3 separate regions of the Homo sapiens genome follow, and regions 1 and 2 are each linked to region 3. Evidence: fine-mapped expression QTL. A gene starts in region 3. Each other region holds a variant in brackets. All regions are shown on one strand. Distances are between the middles of the regions.

The links.
Region 1: its variant is fine-mapped to the expression of CREBL2 in adrenal gland (GTEx, PIP above 0.99).
Region 2: its variant is fine-mapped to the expression of CREBL2 in whole blood (TOPMed, PIP 0.96).

What each region holds. Positions count from the first base shown.
Region 1 is chr12:12,583,495-12,587,735 of GRCh38, reverse strand. LOC107984486 (a long non-coding RNA gene) reads left to right here and starts at 778. Exons shown (of 3, transcript XR_001749010.1): 1 at 778-1,435. RefSeq lists enhancers at 2,178-2,679, 4,234-4,241. The variant T/C (reference allele first, on the strand shown) is at 2,184.
Region 2 is chr12:12,659,058-12,663,298 of GRCh38, reverse strand. GPR19 (G protein-coupled receptor 19) reads left to right here. Exons shown (of 4, transcript NM_006143.3): 4 at 829-2,409. The coding sequence starts at 851. The coding sequence ends at 2,098. Among named protein-coding and RNA genes, the nearest start is that of GPR19, 35 kb to the left of the region's middle. The variant T/C (reference allele first, on the strand shown) is at 2,415.
Region 3 is chr12:12,610,277-12,614,517 of GRCh38, reverse strand. It overlaps CREBL2 (cAMP responsive element binding protein like 2), which reads right to left and starts at 2,642. Exons shown (of 4, transcript NM_001310.4): 1 at 2,331-2,642. The coding sequence starts at 2,345. RefSeq lists a silencer at 2,289-2,588 and enhancers at 2,749-2,798, 2,849-2,928, 2,522-3,273.

The DNA of each region.
Region 1 (4,241 bases), 27 kb after region 3:
GTACTTATAAGGCTTAAGACCGGGCCAGAATTCAAATCATAGACTGGCATATAGAGTTTAAACTAGTAAAATTAGAAAGGGAAAATGTAAACTCCTGAACAAAATGTTAAGAAATTTATGTATAAACCTGGAATGCGGAAAATCTAGCTGAGCAGTTTATATGAAAAATATTATGGGTTTTATTTAGGCTGGCTGCCAGTGCCATGGGAGCCAACAGTGTAATTTCAGCTTGTAAAGAAATGAGTGCAATCTCTGCCTGCATGGAAGTACAATATTCATTTAATAATGGGAAACTTCAGCTTTCTTATCTGCAAAATTAGACGCTAGATTAGACAATTTCCGGGTCCCATACAGTGCTACTATTTTATGAGTATATGACTCTATCACTTAGAAGTTCTAAACTTGAATTCCTGCATTTCCAGAAAATGACCATTGGAAAGAAATATAGGCTTGACTAAAACAGATAATTCATTTCTCTGGTTAACTTTATAGTTTGGATAATCTCCAAAGAGAAAACAAAAAAGATTCTTTTTCTGTGTGTGTGCTGACCTGACCCACAGATATACACCATGTCAAGCTTCACCCAGAACTATTTTGCTTCAGGTGGCAAGCCTGAGAAACCAGTTTTTCCTGAAGTTTGCCTGATAAATACGTTTATGATGAGCTGTACTGTCATTCTTCTATCTTGCCATAGCCTTGGAAGGCCCCTCCTAAGCTGGCCAATTGCCTGTTGACGTTGGTAATCAAGGATTTCAGAGGCAGACATCAAGGCCAACATGGGGCAACGACAGGAGGGACTGGGGTGCTCTGCCATATGAGGCTGCGGGAAGGCATGGATCCGAGTTTTAGCCACAGCATAATAGGCGGTCTGTGATGGTTTTGTGGGTAACCAGTGAGCTTCCCCAATTGATCGGTGCAGTTATCATTCTATTTTAGACCCCTAATTGGCATTTCCAAGCAGTTTAAATATGTTTTGAGAAAAAGGCAGTAAAAGAGACTAAATCTGGGGGAAAGCAAAGCTTCAGTAAAAATAGCATTCCAAATATTTCAGCTGGGATCTCTTTGTCTAACTAACAGAGATTTGGAGAGTGGATCAGAAGGCCTGCATCTCCTTCCCCTTCTGCAATTAGCCAGGTATATGCCCGTGGGCAAGCCATTGAACTGATCCTGGGCCACTGTTTCCTTACTTACAAGATGAAGAGGAGCCCCACCTTGCTACTTCCAAGAGCGTAGGAGCTGAGCACCTTTGGGTTGCCCTGGTTTGTGAAGGCCCCCTGAACTAAGAACACATTATATATTGATCAGGAAAGGAATTCGATATAGGCTTGGAGGTGATCTCTGTAAAGTCAGAAAGAGGATCCTAGGATTCTAAGGCCATATGCACAGGGCAGTGAGCAAGAACTGAAGTTACAGGACTCTCAGGTTCCTGTCTCAGGTAAGTCCCTTCCAGGTGTTGGCTGAGTTGCTCTATGGCTCATTTTCTTAATTGTGTCAAGCAGAAGAGGTCACAGAGGGTGGAGCATTGGCCAATGTGTCATGTTCTCAAAGTTCTGAAAAAAGGACAGAGGGAGCAGAAAGGCCAGAAGAGGAGTTTCCACAGCAAACTGACCACAACCAACTATCCCATTCCCTTCCCAGACTGGAAGGGACAAGGGCACCAGGTAGCTGCAGCCTCCATGGTTTCTTAAGTATCTTCATCCCTTTAGCACCATAGCCACCAACTTAAGCAAGGAAATCAAGATCTTTAACAAACAGGGGAAGTCCAGGAGATGGTAATTAGGTGAACTTTTGGAGATTTTGGGGGAATCCGTAGATGTTTATCTTTTCAAGAGATAGACTCCCTTTTAAATTTTGGTAAAATCTACATAAATGTCATTTACCATTTTAGCCATTTTTACATGTACAATTCAGTGGAGAGGCCCTTTTTGATAACTTTCATTCTCTCCCTGTGCTGATGTAGACTGTGTACTCCCTGCTAGGAAGATTCCTGGTTGTTCTGCAGGGTCATTCTGAGGGCGTCATCCAGTTAAGTGGATTTGGCTCCTGCAATAGGGGAATACCCCAAAATACCAGAAACAGGACAGGAAATTATTCTGTGGTCATTTATCCTTGATACTGATGAGATCAGATTTGCTGCTGCATCCCTTTAATTTTTATCTCTGCATTGTCCCTAACCACTTATC[T/C]TGACCTGTGGCTTGCCCTTGGGCCTGATCTCTTTCATTATAGTGCATTTTGGTTCTCTGCTGACTCCTGGCGCATTCTGATTATTAAAAAAAAACCCTATTTTTCTTGGGATGTGACTTGTCTGCCCCTTCAGTGGTCCTTGCAGAGCTTATTTGTCAGATACTATTGACAGCTTCTGCTCTCTACCTGAGCTCCAATCCCATTTCCCTGACTGCCTACTGGCCATTTCCTCTGGAATGTGCAGGTCATTGTTCTGCCAAGCAGATTGCAACATGTCCAAAAACAACCTTCTTCTTTTTTTTTTTTTTTTTTTGCCACAAATCAGCTGCTCATATAAACTGTCAGTCCCTGTCAATAGTCCATGAAGTTATTTAGATATAGAGAAGCAAATTCCTCTTTGATTTGATCTCCTCTTTCATCACTCTCAGCTGTTCAGCCCCTAGAACAATCAGGTTTTCCTTCAAATATTGATCTTGTTTCTGTCATTCCCTCTCTCCTATGCCCATTTCTAGGTCCTTACTTCCTCTAATATCATCTACTGTTCATGTCTACCCTTTCCCTGATTCAATTACCTGTGAAAGACTGAGGCCAGACCTAGACTACCTTCATTAATCAAATCATGTCTATTCAAAACCCTGAAGTTCTTCCCTATTCATATAGACTTCTTGCTCTTCTTTGCTGTCAAAATTTCCTCTAATCTGATCTCATACTAGACAATATTTCTGCCAGGTGGCTATATTGTAATGGGAAGTTTAATGGACTTGGAGTTAGTGGATCTGCTTTCAAATCCTAGCCCCGTACTCAGCAGAATGACCTTGGGCAATTCACTGACTCTCGAAACCTTGAATCCCCATTTGCAAAACTGGGGTGATAATACCTATGTCATAGGGAAGTTTATGAGATTGTAGTAATATCTGTGGAGACAGTTTAGCATTGTGCTCGGAACCCGTGTTTGGGCTGACTTACTTGGTTCAATACTAGGCTTTCCCACTCAGTAACTATGTGACCTGAAGCAAGTTCCTTAGCCTCTCTGGGTTTCATCAGTTTCATCTGTAAAATGGATACATTACCTATGAGGTAACATATACCTCATAGGTCTGTCGTGACAATTAAATGAGATAATATATGTAAAGCACTTTAACACAGTGCAAGGCACATTGTAAGCTTTAATAGGTGTAAACTATTATAATTATGCAGCAAGAGACCTAGTGTAATCAGCACTTGATATATGTTTGGTAAGTTTGTTTGTGTGAGACAGTGTCTCACTCTGTCACCGACACTGGTGTGCAGTGATCATAGCTCACTTGCAGCCTCGACCTCCCAGGATCAAGCTGTCCTTCCACCTCAGCCTCCCAAGTACTATACTCCCTGGGACTATAGGCGCACACCTTCACACCCCGCTAAATTGTTTTGTATTTTTGTAGAGAAAGGGTCTCACTGTGTTTCTCAGGCTAGTCTTGAATTTTTGGGCTCAAGCGATCCACCCACTTCAGCCTCCCAAAGTGCTGGGATTATAGGCATGAGCCACCGTGCCCAGCCTAAGTATGTTGATGAATTCATCTTATTCAGATGATCTTAACTTCCCATTAATTTTTGCTATGTACATTCTTATGCCACCCTTCCTCCAGACAGGCTGACTGCTTTGGTTTTCCATGAATATATCTTTCACTTTTCTTGCCTTTGATAATGGTTTCCTATTATAATTTATAATTCATCACATGAAATAGTAGGTACTATATCATTTCTAGAATGTCATAATTTCTCTTTCCTGCCAATCCAGATTCTTTCCATTTTTTAAGGTCTCTCCTAAACGTTGGCTTGGTGACACTTTCCCTCATTACTTCTGTACTTATCAGTGTCTCATTTTTCTGAACCAATTACCCTTGGCTTAGCACTTGATGCCATTAATCTGTCAGGTACACTTAGCTGCTGTTTCCTGTATATTCATTTTGTGTCTTCAGCTCAAATGAAAACAGTCCTCAATCCAGCCTTGTTTCAGAACATGCAGTAAATATATAGTGACTATTAAATCTATTAGATCCAACATTCTAGAATAA
Region 2 (4,241 bases), 49 kb before region 3:
TTGTTGTTTTTAATCACCTGACTGCCATAAGGTCTCCCGTAACCTGGTTACATTTCTTAGAGGACATCTTGTATGTTCTTCAGTCAGTATTTTATGAAACAATAACAACAGAATAGCATCAAAATATATGTCACTGGTAGGTGGCAAGCTATTAGTGCATGAACTGTATCGTCTTTTAGAAAAAGCAAGCTATTTTCAGATGTCATTAAATTAGGAGCTATTTCTGGCTCATGTAGCAGTGTTGACTGCTCCATGTGTTACCATAATCCTTCTGTGATGGAAAATCTACACTAAGTAAGGACAGCACCCTTCCCAGTAGCTAGCCTGTCTACATTCACAGACTGCTGTTAGCTACTTCCATAGTCAAAATCTGTGTGTTTTCATCTGCCCAAGCTTTCCTCTTTTGCAACCTTAGGACAATTAGGAACTTCTCACATACTTGCCCAGAATTCCAGCAGATCTTCAGTTGGTGGTAACACCGTTACCATGAGCCAGATTTGAGATCCCTAATATTCTGTGATCCCTGATGAGTGAAGGGAACAAGGATATGTGTAGGAGGGGAGCTCGGTATGACTAAGGGTCAAGAGAAGGTGAGGCCAGAGAGAGCCTGAGCTGAGATCTGCTGAAACAGCTCCTAAAATGAAAACAAAGTTGGGGCCAGAATTTTTTCTGGATAGTAGTTATGTTTTCCTGCCAACGCTCAAGTCCTACACAAAGACAAATGACAATCAATGTAAATGTCAAATAAGATCGTTAGCCTGAGTAATCATAACCAATCTGTATGACACCTTTTTAACAGGAGGCCTCATTCTTCTTTTCCCCAACCAGAATTAAGAGAAAAAAAGTGAATATGGTTTTTGCTCACAGAATGGATAACAGCAAGCCACATTTGATTATTCCTACACTTCTGGTGCCCCTCCAAAACCGCAGCTGCACTGAAACAGCCACACCTCTGCCAAGCCAATACCTGATGGAATTAAGTGAGGAGCACAGTTGGATGAGCAACCAAACAGACCTTCACTATGTGCTGAAACCCGGGGAAGTGGCCACAGCCAGCATCTTCTTTGGGATTCTGTGGTTGTTTTCTATCTTCGGCAATTCCCTGGTTTGTTTGGTCATCCATAGGAGTAGGAGGACTCAGTCTACCACCAACTACTTTGTGGTCTCCATGGCATGTGCTGACCTTCTCATCAGCGTTGCCAGCACGCCTTTCGTCCTGCTCCAGTTCACCACTGGAAGGTGGACGCTGGGTAGTGCAACGTGCAAGGTTGTGCGATATTTTCAATATCTCACTCCAGGTGTCCAGATCTACGTTCTCCTCTCCATCTGCATAGACCGGTTCTACACCATCGTCTATCCTCTGAGCTTCAAGGTGTCCAGAGAAAAAGCCAAGAAAATGATTGCGGCATCGTGGGTCTTTGATGCAGGCTTTGTGACCCCTGTGCTCTTTTTCTATGGCTCCAACTGGGACAGTCATTGTAACTATTTCCTCCCCTCCTCTTGGGAAGGCACTGCCTACACTGTCATCCACTTCTTGGTGGGCTTTGTGATTCCATCTGTCCTCATAATTTTATTTTACCAAAAGGTCATAAAATATATTTGGAGAATAGGCACAGATGGCCGAACGGTGAGGAGGACAATGAACATTGTCCCTCGGACAAAAGTGAAAACTATCAAGATGTTCCTCATTTTAAATCTGTTGTTTTTGCTCTCCTGGCTGCCTTTTCATGTAGCTCAGCTATGGCACCCCCATGAACAAGACTATAAGAAAAGTTCCCTTGTTTTCACAGCTATCACATGGATATCCTTTAGTTCTTCAGCCTCTAAACCTACTCTGTATTCAATTTATAATGCCAATTTTCGGAGAGGGATGAAAGAGACTTTTTGCATGTCCTCTATGAAATGTTACCGAAGCAATGCCTATACTATCACAACAAGTTCAAGGATGGCCAAAAAAAACTACGTTGGCATTTCAGAAATCCCTTCCATGGCCAAAACTATTACCAAAGACTCGATCTATGACTCATTTGACAGAGAAGCCAAGGAAAAAAAGCTTGCTTGGCCCATTAACTCAAATCCACCAAATACTTTTGTCTAAGTTCTCATTCTTTCAATTGTTATGCACCAGAGATTAAAAAGCTTTAACTATAAAAACAGAAGCTATTTACATATTTGTTTTCACTCAACTTTCCAAGGGAAATGTTTTATTTTGTAAAATGCATTCATTTGTTTACTGTAGTTTTTGTGGGTTTTATTTTACTTGCTTTTTATGTTTTAGGAAAAGCGTTCACTTTGAACTTTAGCCAACAGTCCTTTTACTATTAATATATTAGTTACATGCATAAAAAAGAAAATGCTTTCTTACTATTTACTGTTGGTTCAAAAACATAAACCTAAGCCATACACACAGTCTT[T/C]GATTAATGATTCAATCTAGTTTTATTTTGTTTTCTTTTTCTCCTCCTTACTGAATTTTTATAACTATGGGCTTCAGTTCCAAATGAAATCCCCGTGTCACCTATCTCAGAGATTTATATTTCTTTCACTAAGCAACATTTAGGATGAGTTAATATTGTATAGGTTGTCACGTTACCTTCCTCCAAGTAACCACTAGCCAGATCTGCTATGGAAAGCACGCCATATATTGGAACTTGCTGGCAAGTCTTCTGTGGTTGGATTTTAATCAGGATTCTTAGGGGAAGAAAGCATACGAGTTGCTTAATTTCTCTTGCTCTTTCTCTTGTTTTTATCCTTCCTTAATCTAAGCAGCTGATGAAGCCTTGAAAAATGCAAAGTTAATGCAATGTTTTCCTCACACCTGTGTCCCATCTAGGCTGTGTCTAGGACATTCACCTCCCATTTTTGAGTTATATACAAGTAAATGAGCAGGTGCTGTTGCTAGCATATCTAAAAAATGCCAAAGACAGAAATGACAGATGGCATTTCTCTGTGCTCTGCAATTCAAGCCGAGACTTTCAGCTGCGCAGCACTACCCTATACACCAGGACAGCAAGGGCAAGGACTGTCTTCCTCATTCTTGTAGAAACTGGAGGCCATTTCTCTAGCCAGAGCCTGTTCTCCCTCATCTCTCTCCAGAGCACAGCACCATACCCTGGCCAACCTCAAACTCTTCTTTGCCTGTGATAACTAGGGAATTTTTTTCCTCTGGTTCCCAGATCTCCATTATTTCAAATCGAGGACCAGCCAGCACATTTAAAAAATGTTTTTATTTAAACAATAAAGGGTTTACAGACAAGACTGGTATGCATTTTCACGCCCTAGTTAACAAGAGCTGCAAATAATAACTCCAGTTGTTCAGCAATTCTACATGCATTATCTCCTTTATCCTCTCAATAATTCTGTGATATATTTATTATCATCCCTTTTATAGATGAGCAAACTGGAACTCAATAGTTATGTGACCTGCCCAAGTTGGAATGTGACAGAGCTGGTATTCAAACTCGAGCCTCTAACCGCATGTCTGTCTGTTGCTCTTTCCTTGACATTTCAGATGTCTCCCTAGACGACACGAGGCGCCAAACCCATCCAGGCCCTGAAGGGGCCTCCTGACCACTGCCTTGGTGGAAGTCAAAGGTCTAAGAGAATGTGGCCATTCTTTTTTCTTTTTTTAATTTTTTTTTTTTTTTTTTTTTGAGACAGAGTCTCACTCTGTTGTCCAGGCTGGAGTGCAATGGCGTGATCTCGGCTCACTGCAACCTCTGCCTCCCGAGTTCAAGTGATTCTCCCGCCTCAGCCTCCCAAGTAGCTGGGATTACAGGTGCCCGCCACCATGCCAAGCTAATTTTTGTATTTTTAATAGAGACGGGGGTTTCACCATGTTGGCCAGGCTGGTCTCGAACTCCTGACCTTAGGAGATCCGCCTGCCTTGGCCTCCCAAAGTGCTGGGATTACAGGCACGAACCACCGCACCTGGCCTCTTTTTTATTTTCAATTTTAAAAAATCAGCTGAATTTAAGGTTCACTGGTGATTCTTAAAAAGGGTCTAGTTGAAATGTAATGAGCTGGCCTTCACCTGTTCCTTGGCTGTAGCTAGGTTCTTGGACTTGTGCTGCGGAATGTTTGCAATAAGGAGGGAAACCTGTGCCTTCCTACCTCCCAGACACAGGGGAATGAGACAAGATTACGTTTTGATATTTGGAACAAAGAATAACAAAATATTTAATCTACAAAACATTTACAGAGCTGATGTTTTTAAGTTGAGATGCTTTGTTCAATTGCAGATT
Region 3 (4,241 bases):
CCAGCCTGGGCAACAGTGCAAGACCCTATTTCAAAAAAAAAAAAAAAAAAGGAAACTAAATAAGAAAGGTACCTGGGTTCAATTGAAGCACCAGCCTACTCCACCAGTGGAAAACAGCCTGAGCTACTAGAACTTATTCCCTATGAATTCGTGGCATAATAGGGGTAAAAAAGACAAAAGGTGTAAAAACGTTTATCTTCATTGAGTAGAAGTGTGATGTCCTGGCCGGGCGCAGTGGCTCACACCTGTATTCCTAGCACTTTGGGAGGCTGAGGTGGGCGGATCACCTGAGGTCACTCGAGTTTGAGACCAGCCTGATCAACATGGTGAAACCCTGTCTCTACGAAAAATAAAAATTTAGCTGGATGTGGTGGCACACGCCTGTAGTCCCAGCTACTCAGGAGGCTGAGGCAGGAGAATTGCTTGAACCCAAGAGCAATTCTCGGCAGTGAGCCGAGATCGTGCCACTGTACTCCAGCCTGGGCGATACAGCGGAGACTCCGTCTCAAAAAAAAAAAAAAAAAAAAGAAAAAAAAGAAAAAAGAAAGAAGTGTGATGTCCCCTCCCCAAAGAAATATTCAAAGCAAAAAAAAAAAAAAATTACTTGCTGATTTTTCTGGAAAACTTTTAGAACGCTACCCTTCTGTCTTGGAAATACCACTTCCCCAATATCATACCCCACGAATGTTACTATAGTAAAACTGAAGAGTCTACAATGTTATCCCGCATTCTGTTGCATTGTTGTAAACAAACAAGGGCAAGATTCTTGTCAAGGGAATTAATGTGTGTACTGAGCATATTAAGCACTCTTATGAGCTGATAGCTTCCTGAAACTCGCCCCCCTTCTGTCTTGGAAATACCACTTCCTATTAAGAGGGGTTTACTACTTCACAAGCAATCCGTTCCTCTAGGTGAGTAACAATTCCAGAGTACTGCACTGGGCTTTCCCTTCCATCTGTCACTTCCTCACAGCCTTCTACATGAAGAGGAAGAGAAAACAAGAAGGAAAGAATAAAACAAGGAACACAGAGAAGTTGGAAATTTTTTGAATCTCTCTGAGGATATGTGAAACAAAAACTGCAGCAGCAGCAAAAAAAGACACCCAAACAAAGGACAAAGCTATCGTAAAGAGTATGCCAAAGACTGTGAAACAGAAGACGCTGAGAAGCACAAAGAAGGACGGTTTTTACTTTAAAAACTGGCAAATTTTAGAAGTCTGATTCCTTAAAATAAAAAAGTCCAAATCCAAAACAACCTGAAACATCAATAAACAAATCTTTGACCATCCCTATCTTCAGGAAATAAAACTAAACAACACTAATGTGGGTAGATGTAAAGAGAGAAAGGCGGCCAGGCGCGGTGGCTCACGCCTGTAATCCCAGCACTTTGGGAGGCCGAGGCGAGCGGACACCTAAGATTGGGAGTTCGAGACCAGCCTGACCAACATGGAGAAACCCCATCTCTACCAAAAATACAAAATTAGCCGGGCATGGTGGTGCATGCCTGTAATCCCAGCTGCTCGGGAGGCTGAGGCAGGAGAATCGCTTGAACCCGGGAGGCGGAGGTTGTGGTGAGCCGAGATCGCGCCATTGCACTCCAGCCTGGGCGACAAGAGCGAAACTCCGTCTCAATTAATAAATAAAGACAAAAAGGCTATACATAGATAAACTATTTGGATTAACCAATAATGAACATTATCTATTATTTTATAATCATAAAGTAAGTGATTTGGACAGGGAAATTGGATGGTGATGGGCTATTAAAGTTAACAAGAGGAAAATCAGTATTTTTTTAGAGAAGGCTTTCTAGTGGAGGTTAAACTCCACACTGGCCAAATAGCAACAGGAGCTTAGCGGTGTTCCAACCAACCACAGGAAATAGCTCAGAGGGGGAGTGAACTGATTATATGAATGGGGCATTGAGTAAGGGAGCCTGAGAGAAGGGGAATCGTCAAGGGGAATAAGGCTGGTTCAGCGTGCACTAAAGTCTCCAAACTGGAGAGAGGAGGCAGCAAAAAAGTGCAAGAAGAAAAAGTACAGTAGTTTCTTATCTCGACAGGCAAGTTAAGGACTAGGGGTTGCACTACCTGGAAAGCTAGCAAACGCCCTGGGAGTGAAAAATTTCCAGAGAGGGCCCTTCCTGGAAAAACGCAGCCCCGGTGTTCCCTGATTTCCTGGCTGGGTACCATCGGGCAGTGGACTGGAGAGGCGCAGGGATGTTTTAGGCAGGTGTCTCTTGGGTGTTGGCGTGGACTACATAGCGGAGGTTCAGCCGCGGGACTAGCATTGAGCGACAAGAAGGCGGCGGCGCGTGCAAACCACAAGACTTACCTTACTGTCATCCATCGCGGCAGACAGGCCGGCCTGGCCAGGCACTCCCTCCCGGAGCCCTCCCCCGGCTCAGCCGGCCTGGCCCGGCCCCCGCCCCGAGGAAGAAGGGGATATGGTTCTGGCTGCCTCCTCCTCTCGCCTAACAGTTCGCTTCCCTGATGCCAGAGTCACGGGGACGAGGGACCAGTTCAGGAATGGCAGAGCGGACCCTGGAGGCGGCCCCAAACGCCTCCCTTCGCCGCCGCCGCCTCCTCCTCCCCCTCCATGACAGTCTCTGGGTGTTTACAGACGCTCTGGAGAGCCGCCGAGACCGGAGGGTGGGCGGGAGCGCTGCACACGGAATGGCCCCTTCGGCTGCCGTAGCACCGCGGCATTCTGGGAATTGTGATTTTTCTTATCACAGTCTCTGCGCTACTGACTGGAAAAAAAACTACGATGTCCACATAGCCTCATTAAGGGGCAGCTGTTTTCCTTTTGCCTACTAGCTAGCGCTGAGGAGGCGGGGCTGGGCTGGAGGCCCAAAGTGCGCCTGACCTGAGGTTTTGGCTCCTAAGTGCCAGGGCCTGGAATGGCGGGGACGGGAGTTTGGTGCTCTGCGGAGGCAGCCCTGAAGGCGGGGTGCCGGAAGCAGGCCCTCCTCTGGGACGCTGAGGAAACCCTAAAGGTTCTTTATTTAAAAAAAAACGAAAAACAAAAACTAAGTATGTAAAATAGTGCAGCTACTTTGGGAAGAAATTTGGCAGTTCTTCAGAATATTGGCCACTCCCATACCCAAGAGAAATTAAAACGAGTGACTACACAAAAACTTGTATATAAATGTTCTTTCCTAGCAGCATTATTCATAATAGTCAAAAAGTGGAAACAACGCAAATGTCCTTTACTGGATGAATGGATAAACCAGTGTGGACTATACAAATTAAGAAATACTGGCCAGGGGTGGTGGGTCACGCCTGTAATCCCAGCACGTTGGGAGGCCGAGGCGGGAGGATTGCTTTAGCCCAAGAGTTCGAGACCAGCCTGGGCAACATAGCAAAACCTGTCTCTACAAAAAAATACAAAAATTAGTCGAGTGTGGTGGCACATGCCTGTAATCCCAGTTACTGGGGAGGCTGACATGAGAGGATCACTTGGGCCTGGGAGGCAGAGGCTGCAATAAGCCAAGATTGTACCACTGCACTCCAGCCTGGGCGACAGAGCCAGACACTGTATTTAAAAAAAAAAAAAAGAAGAAGAAGAATGAAAGAAGGAAGAAGAACGATGAAGGAAGAAGAAGGAGAAGAAGGAAGAAGAAAGAAGAAGGAAGAAGACCCATATAGTAAGATGCAGTCTCTACAAAAAAAATTAAAAATTAGTTGGGTGTGTTACAAAAAATTTAAAAATTACTTGGGTGTGGTGGTGGTGCTTGTAGTCCTAGCCACTCGGGAGGCCCAGGTGGGAGGATCGTTTGAGCCCTGGAGTTGGAGGCTGAAGTGAGCTGTGATCACGGCACTCCAGCCTGGGCAACAGAGCAAGACTCTGTCTCAAAAAAAAAGGAAAGAAATATTATTCAGCAATGAAAAAAAATGAAGGGATATACACACTTCAATATGTCTGAACCTTGAAAACTTTATGTGAAGTGAAAAAAGCCAGACACAATAGGCCACATATTGTATGATTCCATTTATAATGAAGTGTCTGGAACAGGCACATCTAAATAGACCAAAAAATCCATTAGTGGTTGCCAAGGGCTAGGGTTGAAGAATGGCAGGGATGGAGGGATCCTGGAAAGGAGAGTGACGGTTAATGAGTACTGGGTTTCTTTTTGAGGTGATGAAAATGATCTAAAATTCAGCCGGGCATGGTGGCTCACGCCTGTAATCCCAGCACTTTGGGAGGCCGAGGTGGGCTGATCACCTGAGGTCAGGAGTTCGA